Linked DNA regions of Homo sapiens. The protein of the gene in region 3 purifies or fractionates together with the protein of the main gene of each other region. This does not show direct contact. Each region holds a gene or a part of one and is shown on either strand. Other genes may lie near its edges. The genes, in order: PIGR, RTCA and ZNF695.

What was found.
Region 1: the proteins of ZNF695 (region 3) and PIGR purify together in Homo sapiens (affinity purification with mass spectrometry; one large-scale study listed by BioGRID and IntAct). This does not show direct contact.
Region 2: the proteins of ZNF695 (region 3) and RTCA purify together in Homo sapiens (affinity purification with mass spectrometry; one large-scale study listed by BioGRID and IntAct). This does not show direct contact.

Annotation. Positions count from the first base shown.
Region 1 is NC_000001.11:206,936,451-206,940,106, reverse strand, and holds part of PIGR (polymeric immunoglobulin receptor precursor), read left to right. Parts: intron 1-643; coding exon 644-988; intron 989-2,355; coding exon 2,356-3,012; intron 3,013-3,656.
Region 2 is NC_000001.11:100,264,699-100,268,454, reverse strand, and holds the start of RTCA (RNA 3'-terminal phosphate cyclase), read right to left. Parts: upstream 2,240-3,756; 5' UTR 2,080-2,239; coding exon 2,035-2,079; intron 1,932-2,034; coding exon 1,831-1,931; intron 956-1,830; coding exon of another isoform or gene 917-955; intron 304-916; coding exon 160-303; intron 1-159.
Region 3 is NC_000001.11:246,984,823-246,988,096, reverse strand, and holds the end of ZNF695 (zinc finger protein 695), read left to right. Parts: coding exon 1-1,130; 3' UTR 1,131-2,774; downstream 2,775-3,274. UniProt on the Homo sapiens protein: May be involved in transcriptional regulation.

The DNA.
Region 1 (3,656 bases), about 40 Mb from region 3:
CTTTTAGAAATATAAGGAAATAACACATGGCAAGTGCAAACATGTAACACCTTACGAAAGTGGTGTTATTGTTTGAAAAAACAATGGATGGCTGGATGCTGGCTCACAGCTGTAATGCCAGCACTTTGGGAGGCCAAGGAGGGTGGATTGCTTGAGGTCAGTAGCTCAAGACCAGCCTGGCCAACATGGAGAAACCTTGTCTCTACTAAATAGAAACCAAAATTAGCTAGCATGCACCTGTAGTCCCAACTACTTGGGAGGCTGAGGCATGAGAATCGCTTGAACCTGGGAAGCGGAGGTTGCAGTGAGCCGAGATCGTGCCACTGCACACCAGCCTGGGCGACAGAGAGAGACTTTGTCTCAAAACAATAAAAATATATAAAATAAAAAACAAGGGTTATCATAAATTTGTCATTCCCTTGTCCTTGAAATGGTTATCATTAATGAATAACAATTCCAATTTAATCATGATTAAAACAGTCACTTTATTTAATCTCAGCAATTTTCCAGCTGTGATATATGATAAATTATCAACACAGGGCCTACGTGTCAGGTAGAAAACCACATCTACTCATAGTGGGTTATCTGGAACAGGCTTTACCTCCCAAGGGCCTCAGAAAGCCTCTCTCTTCTGTTCCCACAGCCATCTCCACGAAGAGTCCCATATTTGGTCCCGAGGAGGTGAATAGTGTGGAAGGTAACTCAGTGTCCATCACGTGCTACTACCCACCCACCTCTGTCAACCGGCACACCCGGAAGTACTGGTGCCGGCAGGGAGCTAGAGGTGGCTGCATAACCCTCATCTCCTCGGAGGGCTACGTCTCCAGCAAATATGCAGGCAGGGCTAACCTCACCAACTTCCCGGAGAACGGCACATTTGTGGTGAACATTGCCCAGCTGAGCCAGGATGACTCCGGGCGCTACAAGTGTGGCCTGGGCATCAATAGCCGAGGCCTGTCCTTTGATGTCAGCCTGGAGGTCAGCCAGGGTAAGGATCCAAGCTCCTTGGGCTTCTGGGGGAAAGTTAGAGGGAATTCTCTAAGGTGCATGGAGGGCTTGAGGAGGAACTTCCTGACAAGGATGTGTAGCCGGGTTGGGGGTCAGAAGGCACCCCTTTCCCCAGGCAAAGACTTCTTTAACAGGAGAAGGAGACAGATAGGGCCTACTTGGGGGTGATGAGTGAACCCTTCTAGGACTTGGTGGCCTATAACATTTTAGGCTTTCTGGAGACCCCAGCTTAGAAGGGTATCAGAAGGACAAGTTTTCTGGTGTTTGCTACAGGTAGAAAGGGAAATCTGACATCAGGCTAAGGAGATAGAAAAGGTAGGGAGAGATTTACAGGGATCCTTAAATTCCTATCATTAATGCACCTTTCCATCAAGGTTTGGGCCGCCAAAAGGCTTCTTGTAAAATGCATATTTTTTTTTTAACCTGGGAACCCTTAGTCTTTTGGTATTATCAGGGTAAATTAGATTATTAGATCTTGACCAAAGACCAAGATCCTGAAAGGATGGGTTGCTAACAAGCCTATTCTAGTTGGAGAAAGAGAAAAAAAGAAAAGCTCTTTCTGACAAGGGTTTAACAATGAGGCTGTTTTAGATAGTCAAGGGCAACTCAAAAGAGAGGTCTACGGAGAAAAGAAATTCAGGGGGACTCCCAAAGACATGTCTTGCTCCTTTGGAATATGCATACTATTGTCTGTGGACTAAATGAGGAGGTCATTTAGGTGGGGATCAAGATTCAAAACCACAGAATCTTTAGAGGTGAAGAGGGCTTAGAGTTCACCCTAACCGGACACTTAGAAGAACATGCTGATGACGGGTATGCAGCCTCTGATTAAGCACTTTAGCAGAAACTCACTGCTCCCTGAGACAGCCCATTTCACATTTAGACTCTTGTAATTTTTAGAAACTTCTATTGTATGCGTTGAAATCCATCACCCTGCATTTACATTCATTCTGTTCATTTCAGCACACATTAATTTGGCCACCTACTACCCAGAGGCATTGTGCTTGTCACAGCAGAGGGGTCAAACATGAGAAAAACATGTTCCAGCCTTCAAGGAACTTCCAGTCCATGGAGAACATAATTACCCATACACCAGATTGGATGTAATAAGTGATGCAGATGTATCAAGAAAGCACAGGGCAGGGAGAGATTAGTGTTAGCTTGGGAAAGGTTTCATGGAGAAGACCGCTGTCAAGCTGGGCCTTCCGACAGCATTCCTCTGGGAAGGAGGGCATTCCAGGTTATAAGTCCACCCACACCCTAACTAGGAATAGCAAATAGTCCTATGTTGCAAGAAAGTAGAATCGTAACTTGCCTGCCCCCTACCTTGCACCCCTCATCCTGCAGGTCCTGGGCTCCTAAATGACACTAAAGTCTACACAGTGGACCTGGGCAGAACGGTGACCATCAACTGCCCTTTCAAGACTGAGAATGCTCAAAAGAGGAAGTCCTTGTACAAGCAGATAGGCCTGTACCCTGTGCTGGTCATCGACTCCAGTGGTTATGTAAATCCCAACTATACAGGAAGAATACGCCTTGATATTCAGGGTACTGGCCAGTTACTGTTCAGCGTTGTCATCAACCAACTCAGGCTCAGCGATGCTGGGCAGTATCTCTGCCAGGCTGGGGATGATTCCAATAGTAATAAGAAGAATGCTGACCTCCAAGTGCTAAAGCCCGAGCCCGAGCTGGTTTATGAAGACCTGAGGGGCTCAGTGACCTTCCACTGTGCCCTGGGCCCTGAGGTGGCAAACGTGGCCAAATTTCTGTGCCGACAGAGCAGTGGGGAAAACTGTGACGTGGTCGTCAACACCCTGGGGAAGAGGGCCCCAGCCTTTGAGGGCAGGATCCTGCTCAACCCCCAGGACAAGGATGGCTCATTCAGTGTGGTGATCACAGGCCTGAGGAAGGAGGATGCAGGGCGCTACCTGTGTGGAGCCCATTCGGATGGTCAGCTGCAGGAAGGCTCGCCTATCCAGGCCTGGCAACTCTTCGTCAATGAGGGTAAGACCCTAGAGAGGGAGGGGGAGTAGGTGGGGCAGTCTCGCAGGTGAGAGCCAAGCTCAGCTCCCTCTGAGTGTATTCATCAATAGTCATCAATCAGCCAACAGCATCCACTCAATGACCAGCCCCGAACTGGAGGCTGCGTGGGCTGCTGCACAGGACAGCAAGAAAAAGCAACCTCTGCCTGATGGCAGCTCCTAATTACTCTTCTGTTATCAAAGTCATTTTGATGGCTGTCCCTGCTTAACAAGCAAGAGGTGAGTAAAGCTCTTGATTGAGGCAGGACTTATAGACTGTGTTTCAGGGCTGTGGCAGGCTCTGCAGGGGTCCTCTGTCCCCTCCCCTGGCCCCTGAACAAGATGGGTGCCTCATCCCTCACATTCAGATGGAAAAAGGATTGGCTTATCTTGGTCTCAATGCGTTCCCAGGAGTGCCCCAGCCTCTAAATGTTTCACTGTCACATTTCGTAGGGTTATTTGTGAATTTCAGCACCATCTGGCCCACTCAGCCCTACTCCAGTGAGCCATCAGCATGGTGAAAGAATTAAATCCCAGCTCCTTCTCATCCCAGAGCACCCTGCATAGAGTTGCCCTCGTGAGAAGCAGCAAACCAGTACTTGCAGTTCCAAGTATCTGTGCTTGTGA
Region 2 (3,756 bases), about 150 Mb from region 3:
CACTGCACCCCCGCCTGGGCAAGAGGGATACCTTGTCTCAAAAAAAAAAAACATAAAAGTAGGGAAACAAGCTCATAGACATTAAGCAACTTGCCCAGAAAGTGGCAAAACCTGGACTTAAACCCAGGTTACTTAAATGGAATGTTAAGTGATACATACCCTGCTGTCTTGGTATCTGCTGTGTGGATTCCACCTTTGATCTTCTCTGGTGTAAAGGTTATTTCTGTTGAGCCAATTTCTGCCCCCTCCAGTTGCCCATCACACAAATCTCGAATCATTTCCAGTCCAGATAAATGTTGAGGCCTTCAGGTCATAATACTGCATCAAAACGTGTGCATTCAGACTGCCTACATCCCCACATTTTATGACAAATTTATAAAACTGCAATGGCAAGAAAACAGCAAGGTCTAACCACAGTAAGTGCCACATCTTCAGTGTCAGCTTCCTTTTGGGTTTTTATGCACCTAGACTACCTGCTAGTATGTATCATTTTAACACTTCCTTGCAGACCAGTTATTTCTGACTATAAATACATACCCTGATATATTGCTGCAAATTAGAAGTGTGCTAAAGAAGAAAACTAATAGTTATTTCAGTGCCACCAGTCTCGCTTGCACTTGACTGAACAATCTATGGTGCCTGTATGGGCTGAACTATGTTCCCCCTAAATTAATATGCTGAGACTGTAACCCTCCGTATCTCAGAATGTGACTATATTTGGAGATAGAGCCTTTAAAGAGATAATTAAGTTAAAATAAGGCCACCATACAATCTTACTGGTGTCCTTATAAAAAAAAAAAAAACTAGAACATACAGAGACGCTAGGGGCAAGGTACACAGAGGAACCACCATGTGAAGAGGCAAAAAGACAGGCCTGGAGCAGATCCTTTTCTCATGGCTCTCAGAGGAAACCAACCTTGTCAGGACCTTGATCTTGGACTTCCAGCCTCCAGAACTGTGAGGAAATAAATTTCTGTTGTTTAAGCTCCACTCTGTGTGTGGCATTTTGTTATGGCAGCCCTAGCAAACTAATACAACACCTACAGCCTAATGAATTGGATTCCCCTGTTGGTGAACTGGAGGGCTGCAAACTATGACAAAGGCAATTAACATTAACATATCAGTAATTGCCTTTTGGTAATTTCAAAACTGTAGACAAAAGACTGAGACCGCTGATTTATTAAAATGTAATAAATACAGAATACATACAAAGCAATCAGTGTGGCTTCAAACCTGGGTCCTCTTCTAGCAGGTGCATGTACCTGAAGCTCAACTAGTGGCATGCCCAGCTACCCAGACAGAAGAAATAAGGTCAAATGTCAAGGTGTTTCCCTCTCCACAACAGATAATTCTGGTCATAACAGCTCTCTGGAGGTATGAATGAAGGCTGGGATAACACATCTCAGGATTCTTTCCTGTTTTATGATTCTAAAACTGACAGCAGAACCAGAATGCACTGGTTATAAAACAGGGTTTCCTCTGGCGTCACAAGCATTTCTGCCCTATCTATCTTGCCAGCTCATACGTGCTGTTCGGATATTTGGAATGCCCGGTGAGGTGAGAAAACATTTTAAAAGCTAGCTCTTCAGCAAATGACACTATTTAGTCAAACAGAGAAAACTCGAGACCATTTCTAAACTCACCCCTCCAGGCTTTCAAGACTTTACAACCCAGGCCACCGCCCAGGCAGAGTGCCCCGCCCTGGATCGCCCATACCTGCGTCTGGGACCTTCTGGGTTCCACCACTCGGACTCCCGATGCCCCAGCCCGGCAGCCCGACCCCCCGATCCCCCAGCTTCACGGCCCAACTCCCCCTCCAGCCAGATTTACCTCAGGCCTGGCGTGCTCCGGCCGGCTCGGATCTTCTGCACCCGCAAGGGGAGGCCTAGGAGACAGCTCAAGGCCGTAGAGACTCTCAGGATCTGGCCGCCCTGCAAAGGTTGGGGTACAGGGAGAAGAGAAGTAAGCACACCGGTGGTGAGAGCTCCCCTCCTTAGTTAGGCTGCAGCCCCGGCCGCTTCGCTCTGTACTCACCCCTTCCATGATGCTGCCATCGACCTCCACCCGCGGCCCCGCCATGGGGGACACCCTGGGGCCCAGCCCGCAGCGACAAAGCCTCCGCCAGAGCGGGAGAAAGAAGAGACGTTGGCTCCCGCCCAGTAGTTCAGAAACCTTGGTTCATGCCTGGGGCGCAGGAGCCTGACGAGAAAGCGGAAGAAGCGGCGCCTCTCGGGACACTGGAGTCAGCAGAAACGAACCCCCGGGTTCGCCCAGTTCCGCAGTCAGTGCGCATGCGCGTAGCTCGGCTTAAAGGAGCCGCGCTGGGAACACTGCGGTCGGGGCGAGGAAGCTGCCGGGGAAGTGAGATGACGGTCGCGGGGGTGCCCAGGAGCCCTGAAAAACTTGTGCCCTGGGCACGGCAAAATCTGCAGGTTGCAGAAAGTCTCAACTGTAAGATAACTCCTCCAGTTATCCCGCAGGCTTGTGCTTTATCTCTGTTTTGTGGGTAAATATGTGTTTATATCTGTTTTCTCGAGGATCCTGGCATACCCCGAGGTGCCGACTTTTAGAGCTGAAGATGCAAGAAAGATTGGGATCCTGCGATGCACCGAACCTGTCTCTCGAAGTGTGTGCGCCCTGGTACATTGATACTCTTGGCCTTTGGTTCCTTGCGGTGTGCGTGTTTGTGTATGCGGAGTGTGTTATCTTTCTTTCTAGGGTGACACACCATTTATTTGAGAGGCGGGAAAGGCAGAATCACTAGTTTAATATTCTGAAAAGCCAAAGTTATGCCATTTTGCTTGAGAGTGAGTGCAAGCTCTTGACTCCCAGGAACAGTGCAGCTAACAATTCACCTCAGGCGAGGGCAGAAGCAATAGCCAGCTTCTTGGTTCTGCCTGTGGCTCAGTTCCTACATAATTGAGTACCAAATAATATGTAAACCTCTAGGGAAGCAAAAAAGAGTAATTCAGCTTCTACCCCCGAAGTTATTGGAGGTATAATGGAGAGACTGAGACGTAATCAATTACAATGTCATCCTCAATAATAATTAACATGTACTGTATTTAGAGTTTATTATGGGGACAATTACAATATATTAATAATATACTGTAACAATAACAGGCAACACTTATTGAGCACTTAGGTGTTGTGCACTGCATGCATTCATAACATGATAAAGTACTTACTGTTTTTACTGTTTTACAGCTTCCTGTGTTAAACAATTTGCTACAAGGTCACACAATTTTAACTAGAAGACTGAGATGTGAACCTGGGTGGTCTGATGTGAACACCACTGTCTGGTAATCCCAACGCTCTGCTGCTTTGCGACAGAGAATGTTTTAGGGAACACACAGACTATGTACTTAACCAAATCTGGAATTTGCCGTAAGATATTAATCAGAGAAGTAATGATACTTGCATTTTAAAATGAAGGCTTTGGCAGTAGGAGAAGGGTGAATAAGAGGCTTAAGAGCCTGAAGGGAGAAATGCCAATGATACAATTATCCAGCAAGAAATAATCAGAAGTTGAAGTAAGGCAATGATGGTAGGGATGGAATATAAAAAAGCTGTACCCCTATCTGACATCTTTATTGGGGGAACCCGCCCCCAATATTTCAACGTAGGTTCTTTCTATTTTCCATAAGTGTTGGCCAGCTGAGAAATAAAGAGAGACAGTATAAAGAGAGGAATTTTACAGCTGAGCCACCGGGGGTGACATCACATATCGGTAGGACCATGATGCCCGCCTGAGTC
Region 3 (3,274 bases):
GTTATAATGGACTTGACCTATGCTCAGCAACTACTCATAGCAAAAACTTTCAATGCAATAAATGTGTGAAAGGTTTTAGTAAATTTGCAAATCTAAATAAATGTAAGATAAGCCATACTGGAGAAAAACCATTCAAATGCAAAGAATGTGGCAATGTCTCTTGCATGTCTTTAATAATGACTCAACAGCAGAGAATCCATATTGGAGAGAACCCGTACCAATGTAAAAAATGTGGCAAAGCCTTTAATGAGTGCTCATGCTTTACTGACTGTAAGAGAATTCATGTTGGAGAGAAACATTGCAAATGTGAAGAATGTAATAACATTTTTAAGTCTTGCTCAAGTCTTGCTGTTGTTGAGAAAAATCATACTGAAAAGAAAACCTACAGATGTGAAGAATGTGGCAAAGCTTTTAACCTGTGCTCAGTTCTTACTAAACATAAGAAAATTCATACTGGAGAGAAACCATACAAATGTGAAGAATGTGGCAAATCCTTTAAGTTGTTCCCATACCTTACTCAACACAAGAGAATTCATAGTAGAGAGAAACCCTACAAGTGTGAAGAATGTGGCAAAGTCTTTAAATTGTTGTCATACCTTACTCAACATAGAAGAATTCATACTGGAGAGAAAACCTTCCGATGTGAAGAATGTGGAAAAGCCTTTAACCAGAGCTCACATCTGACTGAACATAGGAGAATTCATACTGGTGAGAAACCATACAAATGTGAGGAATGTGGCAAAGCTTTTACCTGGTTCTCATACCTTATTCAGCATAAGAGAATTCATACTGGGCAGAAACCCTACAAATGTGAGGAATGTGGCAAAGCTTTTACCTGGTTTTCATACCTTACTCAACATAAGAGAATTCATACTGGAGAGAAACCCTACAAATGTGATGAATGTGGCAAAGCTTTTAACTGGTTTTCATATCTTACTAATCATAAGAGAATTCATACTGGAGAGAAACCCTACAAATGTGAAGAATGTGGCAAAGCCTTTGGCCAGAGCTCACACCTTTCTAAACATAAGACAATTCATACCAGAGAGAAACCATACAAGTGTGAGGAATGTGGCAAAGCCTTTAACCACTCTGCACAACTTGCTGTACATGAGAAAACTCATACCTGAGAAAAACCCTACAATTCTAAACAATATGGCATAGTCTTTAATACCTATTCACAACTTCACAGCAGAATATTTTTACTGAATAAGAGTGTTACAAATGTAATGACTGTCAAAAGGCCATTTACAGTCTATGAGCCTTTGAGTGCACTAAAATGTTTAGGCTACGAACAATACAAATAGACCGGTTCAACACCTCCACTTATATCACAGCTCTTACTGTACACAGAAGAATTTATACTGGAGGGAAACCCTCCAGTTGCTCAAACTGTATTCAATTTCAAAGACTTTGTATTGGAGAGAAACCCTACAAATGTAATAAATGCAGAAACAACATTTGTTCAAAAAATATACCTCAGAAAACACCAGAGTGTTCACACTAAAAACTGTTTTACAGATGCAGTAAATGTGAAAAAATGTCTAATCAAAAATTACATCAAAACACATCCAAGAATTCATAGTAAAAAGCACTAAGTCACTGACACTTTCAGACATTACTGTAAATCTGAGTGTTGGTTATAGAGAATAATTCAAAGTTAAGTTAAAGTAAGTAGGAGATTCACCTTTTGGGGAAGTTATAATTACATTTCAAGTATACCTTTTGGTGCCAGGCACGGTGGCTCTTTCCTATAGTTGCTGCACTTTTGGATGCCGAGGTCGGGGGATTGCTTGAGCCCAGGAGTTTGGGACCAGGCTGGGCAACATGGCAAAACCTCATCTCTACAAAAAGTAAAATAAAAGCCAGGCTTGGTGGCACATGCCTGTTGTCCCAGCTACTTGGAAGGCTCAGGTGGGAGGATTGCTTGAGCCTGGAGGTTGAGGATGCAGTGAGCTGCTATCTGGCAACTTCACTCCTGCCTGGGCAACAGAGCAAGACCCTTTCTCAATAATAATAATAACAACATAATAATAAAGTATACTCGGTGCACTGAAAGAGTTTTAGCTTTTTTGAAAATCACATATTTATGTAATTCAAGTCTTAAATCACTTGATACCATGCCTTCATTTCTAGTGTTTATGTGAAGGCATGAGGCCTACTGTTGCTACATGAAAGCTGTGAGAGTTTCTTCTATATTCGGGTGGGTGTTGTTCATATCCTTTTCTTTGGAAGATTATGGACATTGCATTGTAAGCTTCCTGAAGAAATTTAACTGGAGAGGCTCTTTGTACTTGTCTTATAATAGGGTTGTAAGTGATTCATGAGATAGGTCTTCAGAGTACTATTCTGCATTATATTTAAGAAAGAAACATTTGAGTTTTACAAGTCAGTTGTTTTTCCTATTGCACATTAAGGTAATAAAATTCAGTGGATTTTGAAATGCTCTTTTTAGACTGTTTGAACTTAATTTGTTTTAATAAGACATTGTTTTAATGTCTTTGGACCGTTGTACATTAAGTGATGCGTATCCTACCACCAACGTTAACCTATCTCACCTTAGTTACGGTTGTAGGTAACAAATGGTAACAATACAATAGTGGGTAACATGGTGGAATAGTATCTCTAATGATCCCTTCTCCCAGTGGCATTAAACTTCAAATAATTTGAAAAATATTGTTCCCACACGTTACACCTTCATTCTGTTTGCTCTTTTTGTAATGACAGTGTCATTATTAAGGCTATAATAAAGCCTATATAGGATTATAATCAAAGACCGTGTATTTCTGAATCTTGAAGGACTATTCACAAAATTTTATTTACATTTTCCTTTTAACATGTGGCTTTTCTGGCCTGCAAAACATATACATGCTTTTAGTTTTGGTTTACATGGAGATAAATACATAAATATACTACTCTAAGGATAAATGTTAGGTGTAAGACAGTTATGAAGCAAGTAATGTGTTTGAAGTAAGTGCATACCTGTTTTCAGAATAAGAGAAAAATGTTGGAACCAAACATAATTTCAAAAGTATGGATAATTTATTAGCAAACTAGAAACCTCAAAAATGTCGAAGGCAAATCTGTTTTCTCTGCTTTGTATTGAAGGCATTTCTCTAAAATCTTATTTTGCAGAATTTCCACATGAAATTCCTGTTTTTACTTTTATGTTGCTCATGCTAGAGCTAACGTATAATTTTCTTGTTCCAAAATTCATGAAGAATTTCTTATGTGATCTTCTCAGGGATTATAATAATGATTTTATGAAACTTAT